Homo sapiens: one gene and its partner. The protein of the gene in region 1 purifies or fractionates together with the protein of each later gene. This does not show direct contact. Each region holds a gene or a part of one and is shown in the gene's direction. Other genes may lie near its edges.

What was found.
Region 2: the proteins of NRIP3 (region 1) and DDI2 purify together in Homo sapiens (affinity purification with mass spectrometry; 2 studies listed by BioGRID and IntAct, with this or other methods). This does not show direct contact.

The regions. Positions count from the first base shown.
Region 1 is NC_000011.10:8,997,289-9,001,041, reverse strand, and holds part of NRIP3 (nuclear receptor-interacting protein 3), read left to right. Parts: intron 1-3,753.
Region 2 is NC_000001.11:15,627,379-15,631,131, forward strand, and holds part of DDI2 (protein DDI1 homolog 2), read left to right. Parts: intron 1-2,946; coding exon 2,947-3,183; intron 3,184-3,753. UniProt on the Homo sapiens protein: Aspartic protease that mediates the cleavage of NFE2L1/NRF1 at 'Leu-104', thereby promoting release of NFE2L1/NRF1 from the endoplasmic reticulum membrane.

The DNA.
Region 1 (3,753 bases):
AGGCTGGAATGCAGCTGCAGTCACATCTTACTGCAGCCTCGACCTCGCAGGCTCAAGAGATCCTCCCACCTCAACCTCCTGAGTAGCTAGGATTACAGGTGCACACCACAACACCAATCTAACTTTTGTATTTTTTGTAGAGATGGGATTTTGCCATATTGCCCAGGCTGGTCTTGAACTCCTGGTCTCAAGCGATCTGCCCACTTTAGCCTCCCAAAGTGCTGGGATTACAAACATGAGCTACCACACCCAGCCCTGATTTTTTTTTTTAACTCAGTGAAGCTGGAGAAAAACATCTCCGTTCTTGGAAATTTGCCTATTGTAATTTATCTTGTTTTAGCTACCAGGTTCATAAAAGTTTTTCTCATTGTGCTAAGGACTTTTTAATTTTTAAAAACAGTCATGTTATGTGGTAATATGCTGTCTTTCCTAAATGATATTATACTTACCTGTAGGCATTAGGCCATATTCTTACTTGTCTGGCAATAGAGTTTTTCTTTCCTACATATGATTGCTTCTGATCATAGCTAAATGCTTTTTCAAAACTGACTAGAATTAGGAATGATGCTGGGGGAAAGATGGTTGAACACAGTAAAGCAAACTTACCATAAAATACCTGAACAGAATCTCTGTCTATTAGAGCAGGTCTGTGTGGTGTGCCCTATAGATTAGCTATCCATATCACCACAAATCATGGGCTGGAGAATTTCAGAGGCTTAGAAGAGAAGCGTGAAATACCAGTATAACACCAAGATCTGGCACAAACTGAAGATTTGCAGAGTCGTGATTGCATCCTCGTAATAGCAAACATTATTTGAATACTTGCTGTGTTCAGGACACAGTCTAGGGGCTAAGACACAAATAGGAAGACAGAAAAGTTTCTCATTATAAACAGGTTTATAGGTTGGGGGCAGGGAAGGACAGATCAGTTAATTTAATATACAAATATTTATTGAGTACCTACTACACATGTCATGCAATAATTTAAGCTTTGGAGATATAATAGTGAACCAAAACTGAGTTCCTGCCTTGACGGAACTTTCATTCTTGTGGGAGGAAGGAGGCAGAAAGTAAAATTAAGTAAATGTATATAAGGTAATAATAATAAATATTTTCTATGGAGAAAATAAATCAGGGTAAGGGGAATAGGGAAGGCAGTGACTGGGGTGGGGTGGAGTCTGGCTATTTTGTACAGGGTTGTCCGGCAAGGCCTATCTGATAAGATTACATTTGAGGAGATACTGAAGGGAATTAAGGAGCAAAGTTTCTCAGGGAAGAGTGTTCTAGGCAGAAGGAACAGCAAGTGCAAAGGACTGAGGTGTCACTGTGCTTGATATAACTGAAGAACTGTAAGAGGACCAGTGTAGCTAGATCAAAATGAGCAAGGGGGAGGGTGATAGAAGATAACATCAGAGATGTAGTAGGAGGCCATTGTGCAGGCATTTGGGTGGTTTTTTAAAATTATTATTTTTTTTATTTTCCACTCTTTTCAGCGCATACCTATGCATTTGGGTTTTAACCTGAGATTGGAAACGAGTGGAATATTTTGAGCAGAGGGGTGATATGATACATACGACTTATTTTACAAAAAGACTACTCAGGCTACTATGTGGGTTACACTGTAAAGGGGCAAGAGTAGATGAAGCAGGAAGACTGATTAGGAAGCTATTATACAGTAATTGAAGTGAGAGTTGATGGTACCTCAGAGCAGTGTGATAAGCTGTGAAGGAGAGGAGGAAGGATCAGGTTCTGGATATATGTTGAAGGCAGAGCTGACAAATGTAATTGATGCATTGGATTAAGAGTGAAAGAGTAATCAAGGAAGACCATGAGGTTTTTAACTTAGCCATTGGAAGAACAGAATTATCACTTGCTGAAGTGGATAAGACTTGCAGCGGGGAGCAGGTTGAGGATGGCAAATAAGAATGAAGAGTTTGCGGGCTGGGCGCGCTGGCTCATGCCTGTAATCCCAGCAGTTTGGGAGGCCGAGGCGGGCAGGTCACGAGGTTAGGAGATCAAGACCATCCTGGCAAACACGGTGAAACCCCATCTCTACTAAAAAATACAAAAAATTAGCCAGGCCTGGTGGCGGGCACCTGTAGTCCCAGCTACTCGGGAAACTCGGGAGGCTGAGGCAGGAGAATGGTGTGAACCCAGGAGGCGGAGCTTGCAGTGAGCCGAGATCGTGCCAATGCACTCCAGCCTGGACGACAGAGCGAGACTCTGTCTCAAAAAAAAAAAAAAAAAAAAAAAAAAATGAAGAGTTTGATTTTTGAACAAGTTTAGGGTCCCAATTAGTTACTTAAATGTAGATGCTGAATAGACAATTCTAGAAGAAGATAAGTAACACCACCAGAAAGCCTGTGCTAGTTGCCAAGATGTAATAGTCAGATGTGCCAGAGGAGTCCAGCGGAAGAAGTGATTTCTCTAACCTGATGTGATGATAAGGATGGAGACTGGCATCTATTTACACCTTTACCATTCCCTTTGAGCCAGCTGACTGTGAGATGGTATGGAGAGAAGGCTGCCTCTAGAGTGTGCTTTGTAGAACCTCAGAGTAGGAAGAATTTTACAGGTTATCTGGTCTAATTCCTTGCCCATTTGTGAATCCTTTCTAACAAAATGCAGCCTCCGTGAGCAGCTGAGAAACCATTATCTCAGACTAATCCACAAAACAGATAATAATGAGGAATAGGTTGTTTGTTGGGTCATGAGCAAAGGCAAAGAAATAGAACACAGAAGGCCTGGGGCAGTGTAACAGCCTGCCTTATGTTTTTGAGCAACTGCAAACTGAAGAACAATCTGTGTTTCCATGGGGTAGAATGGGTCACGTGTTATATACTCAGCTAGTAAGCAAAGAGAAGGCACAAATATTGGTGACCTTTTGGATTTCCAAGGTCAGAGATAGAGACATGTATACTGGGCTTGACTCAGGAGTCCATGTTTATCTATAGACTGTATATGAGGACTAAAATGGAGTAGAATGATTTCAGGCCCTTTTGGGGTAAAAGAAAAAGTGAATGGTATCCATGACCCTTGTTCTAACTAAGCTCTAGTTGTGGCTCTGTTGCTAGCTAGTGACCTTGGATTTCTCTCTTGGGAATAAATGCTACAAAGAAAGCAGACCCCTACCATTTCCTCTGTTTTCTAGTTTGGTTCATTCTGTGGACCACAGAAATCCATTAGTTTCTGTCTGGGTAGCTTGGGTAAAGGGATTGAGAGAGTGGCTTTAAAGTTCTTGCTCAAATTATGATTCTATGGTATCCTGCACTATAGTCTGATTCCTCTCACCTCTCTTTTCTTCAAACTCTATAGTTTGGTTAGAAGAGATGTTTAAGCAGTGTGGGTGCCAGATTGAGGAACTGTAGCTATTTTCACCCAGAATACAGCACTTCCCATAGTGTTCATTTCCTTTAGAAGCTCTTGATGGCGATGGAGGCAGAATATTTGAACTTGCCTGGTTAGAGTTTAGATGCCTCTAGCAGCCACATTTCAGGAAGAGTAGAGAAGCAGGGACTGCTTAGGTTAGTAGCTGCCTTGTTGAAGTTTAGCATAAAGCAGAATCCACGTCAGAAAGACGACTTAAAAATTATGTCTAAATGGCCACCAGGGTATCTGCAGCATCCATCTAGCAAATTAGTACTGTGTATCCTTTTTTCTTTCTTTTTTTTTTTTTTTTTTTTTTTGAGACGGAGTCTCGCTCTCTCACCAGGCTGGAGTGCAGTGGTGCGATCCGCCTCCCGGGTTCAAGCG
Region 2 (3,753 bases), on another chromosome or scaffold:
CCATTATGCTGAACTTGATAAACATTAAGCAGCTTGACCACCAAGTTGTGGTTCTTTCCTACCAGCTGTGTTAATCACATACAAAGAAACGTTTATCTATCTTTGATGCTGCTTTTATAATAGATGTTTATAGTCTGAACTCTGTGCATTGGGATTTAGTAGGTTCTATGTCACTGAAATAATATGCAGAATTGTGTGGATGTGAATGTGTGTGTGCACTGGATAGAGAGAGGGTCATAGCTTTGTTCAGATACTTGAAGTGGCTCATGATCCACAAAATGATTATAAGGTCTTAATGTGAAACAGCTTGGTGAAATGTGTGGTTTTTTTCCATTCGCTGCCATATTCAGATAGATTTTCTTAAATAGTGTTTAGCCTGTAGGTCACCAGTTTTAAAGTTTATGGTGACAGATGCTGGCAGAGTCTGGGTGATGACAGACTGACTGCAGTTTTAACCACAGTGTTTCCATTCAGCCTGAAACTGGAACTTACTGAGACCATCAAGGACCGGCTCCACCAGATCTGGAAGACATTAGTCCCTTGGGGCCACAGTTAAACTTTAGAAAGAAGTTAAAACTTCTTTCTGAAGAAGTTAAACGTATTTAAACAACTATGACAATCAGTAAAAACCACATCTTCCTTTGGTTAATTTGATGAGATTATTAATTCCGGAATTTACTTCTTTTTTTTTTTCCTCTGCATTGTTGTTTATGGACAAGAGAGCCTGTAACAGGTTGGGGCAGGAGTGATCTGGTCTATTAAGTAAACATGTTTTTGAGAATTATTCTGAAGTGAATGGACTCTCAAGATAATGTATAACAGGAGTGGAGATAAAATTTCTTGACCTGCAAAGAGGGCCCACCCATATATGTTTTTCTGGCTGGTATAGATTAACTACCTCACAGAGATCATCCTCTTCACTTCACCATTTCCTTGGTTGGGAGTTGAAGAAAGTGGCTAGTTGAACCCCTGCTAAAGGGTAGAAATGTTACATCATGAGTTTAAGCATTCTCTTTTTCTATCTGAGGTCCAAAAAGGCTTCAGGATAGTCCCAGACTTGAGACAAGTTTGTTTGTTTTTTGATTTTTTAGTTTATTTAAAATCCTTAATAGTGCAAGGATTGTGCTATAATTCTGATCACTGTGGAATTGCTTAGTGTACTGTCATTTATAACATTAAGCACAGTTATCCTTAAGAAAAGTATTCAGTTGTTCAGACAAGTTTGACCATCAACTATATTTTTTGGAGTTGAAGGAATGTCGATTGACTCAGGCCTAGCCCCTCATTCTGGCTCTCCTTGTTTACTTTTCTCTTTTTCATTTTTCTTTTTTAAATAACAGTTTTATTGAGATAGAATTCATGCATTTAAATGATTTTTTTTTACTATATTCATGAGTTGTGTAACCATCACCACAATCCATTTTAGCGTATTTTCATTACCTTAAAAAGAAATCCTATACCCATTTATAGTCATTTCCCATTTCCCCCTAGTCTCCGCAGCCTAGACAACTACAAGTCTACTTTCTGTCTCTATGTATTTACCTATTTGGAACATTTCATATAAATGGGGTCATACAATATGTGAGTCCGTTGTGTAAGGATTAAAATTCCCTTTTATCTTCCTTTCATTTTAGTAAGGTCAGTTCCACCTGGCATATAGAACCTGGGAGTTGTAGCTTCTAAACTGTGGTAGCTTTTGGTGTATTCAGCACTGAGAACCTATGCAAGTCCCTTTTCTTCTTTCTTTTCTATAAAATGATGACACTGTTTAGCTCCCCAAGGGCATGAGAAGAGTTAGCAGAGATGCACAGATTAAAGTATAAATTCAGAGAACTATTAAGAACTTCCCTGAGCCAATACGTTTAGCACTGACTTGCAGAATTTAGCATCTAATATTTATGCTGCTCACTTGACATATATAATATCCTTTGATCCGGCCGGGCACAGTGGCTCACACTTATAATCCCAGCACTTTGGGAGGCTGAGGTGGGTGGATCACCTGAGGTCAGGATTTCGAGACCAGCCTGGCCAACATGGTGAAATCCCATCTCTACTAAAAATACAAAAAATTAGCTGGGCGTAGTGGCACACGCCTGTAATCCCAGCTACTCGGGAGGCTGAGGCAGGAGAATCACTTGAACCCAGGAGGCAGAGGTTGCAGTGAGGCAAGATCGTGCCATTGCACTCCAATCTGGGCAACAAGGCAAGACTCCGTGTCAAAAAAAAAAAAAAAAAATTCTTTAATCCAAGCGTCAAGGCTGTTTGAACCATATGTCAGACCAGAGTAGGATTTTTCTCAAGAACAACATCCAGACTTATGCAATTATATTTATTGAAACTAGCTTTAATTTTTTTTTTTTTTTTTCTTTTGAGATGAAGTTTCGCTCTTGTTGCCTGGGCTGGAGTGCAATGGCGCCATCTCGGCTCACTGCAACCTCCACCTCCCGGGTTCAGGTGATTCTTCTGCCTCAGCCTCCTGCGTAGCTGGGATTACAGGTGACTGCGACCACGCCCAGCTAATTTTTGTATATTTAGTAGAGACAGAGTTTCACTATGTTGACCAGGCTGGTCTTGAACTTCTGACCTCAGGTGATCCAGCCACCTTGACCTCCCAAAGTGCTGGGATTACAGGTGTGAGCCACCACGCCTGGCCACTTTAATGATTTAAAAACATAAATTAAAAACCTGATGTCTATTGTGAGATATTTTATAAGCTAAAAATTTGGAGTTACTACCATCACCTTCCCCCTATTTTTCTTCTTCTATCGATTCACTCTCAGCCGGCAGTCTTTATATTCAGAGTCATCATGAGAAAGAACAAGGTTAAAGTCTACAGTTACCTTTGCTGCTGTCATATACCATGTATGAGCAAGTGTTCTGCTGTTTCCTTCAAGTGCTTGTTTTTGTAGAGTAATTTGAGTAAACTGAATTGATTTTCCCCAACAGACTTACCCCGAATAGATTTCAGTAGTATAGCTGTGCCTGGCACATCAAGTCCCCGGCAGCGCCAGCCACCAGGAACACAGCAGTCCCACTCATCTCCTGGAGAAATAACTTCATCTCCTCAGGGCTTGGACAATCCAGCCTTGCTCCGAGATATGTTGCTGGCCAACCCGCATGAGCTGTCCTTGCTGAAGGAACGCAATCCACCCCTGGCAGAAGCTCTGCTCAGTGGAGACCTTGGTAAGCTTATAAATTTGGAAGGCTATTAGGCTGGCCTGAGGTGAAGAAGCTGTGTCATAGCAAATGTGAAGAGACTCAAGCGACACTGTGTCACATGATTTATTGAACATACCAGTTTTTTCTCTGTGAGAGGTAAATTAGTGCTAAAGTCAAAGGCTGAGTTACTTGGAAACAGCAATAGAGTTTTAGCAGTGAAATCCATCTAGGCCACCCCCCTTGGTTTACTTTTTGTTTTCCTCATTGTTTTTGGCAGCAGATAACCTAGGTACTGATTTTTGTTTGTTTCTTTGTTTTTTCTTTGAGACGGAGTCTTGCTCTTTCGCCCAGGCTGGAGTGTAGTGGTGCAATCTTGGCTCACTGCCAGCTCCGCCTCCCGGGTTCATGCCATTCTCCTGCCTCAGCCTCCCAAGTAGCTGGGACTACAGGCGCATGCTGCCACACCTGGCTAATTTTTTGTATTTTTATTAGAGACGGGGTTTCACCGTGTTAGCCAGGATGGTCTCGATCTCCTGACCTCGTGATCCGCCTGCCTCGGCCTCCCAAAGTGCTGGGATTACAGGTGTGAGCCAC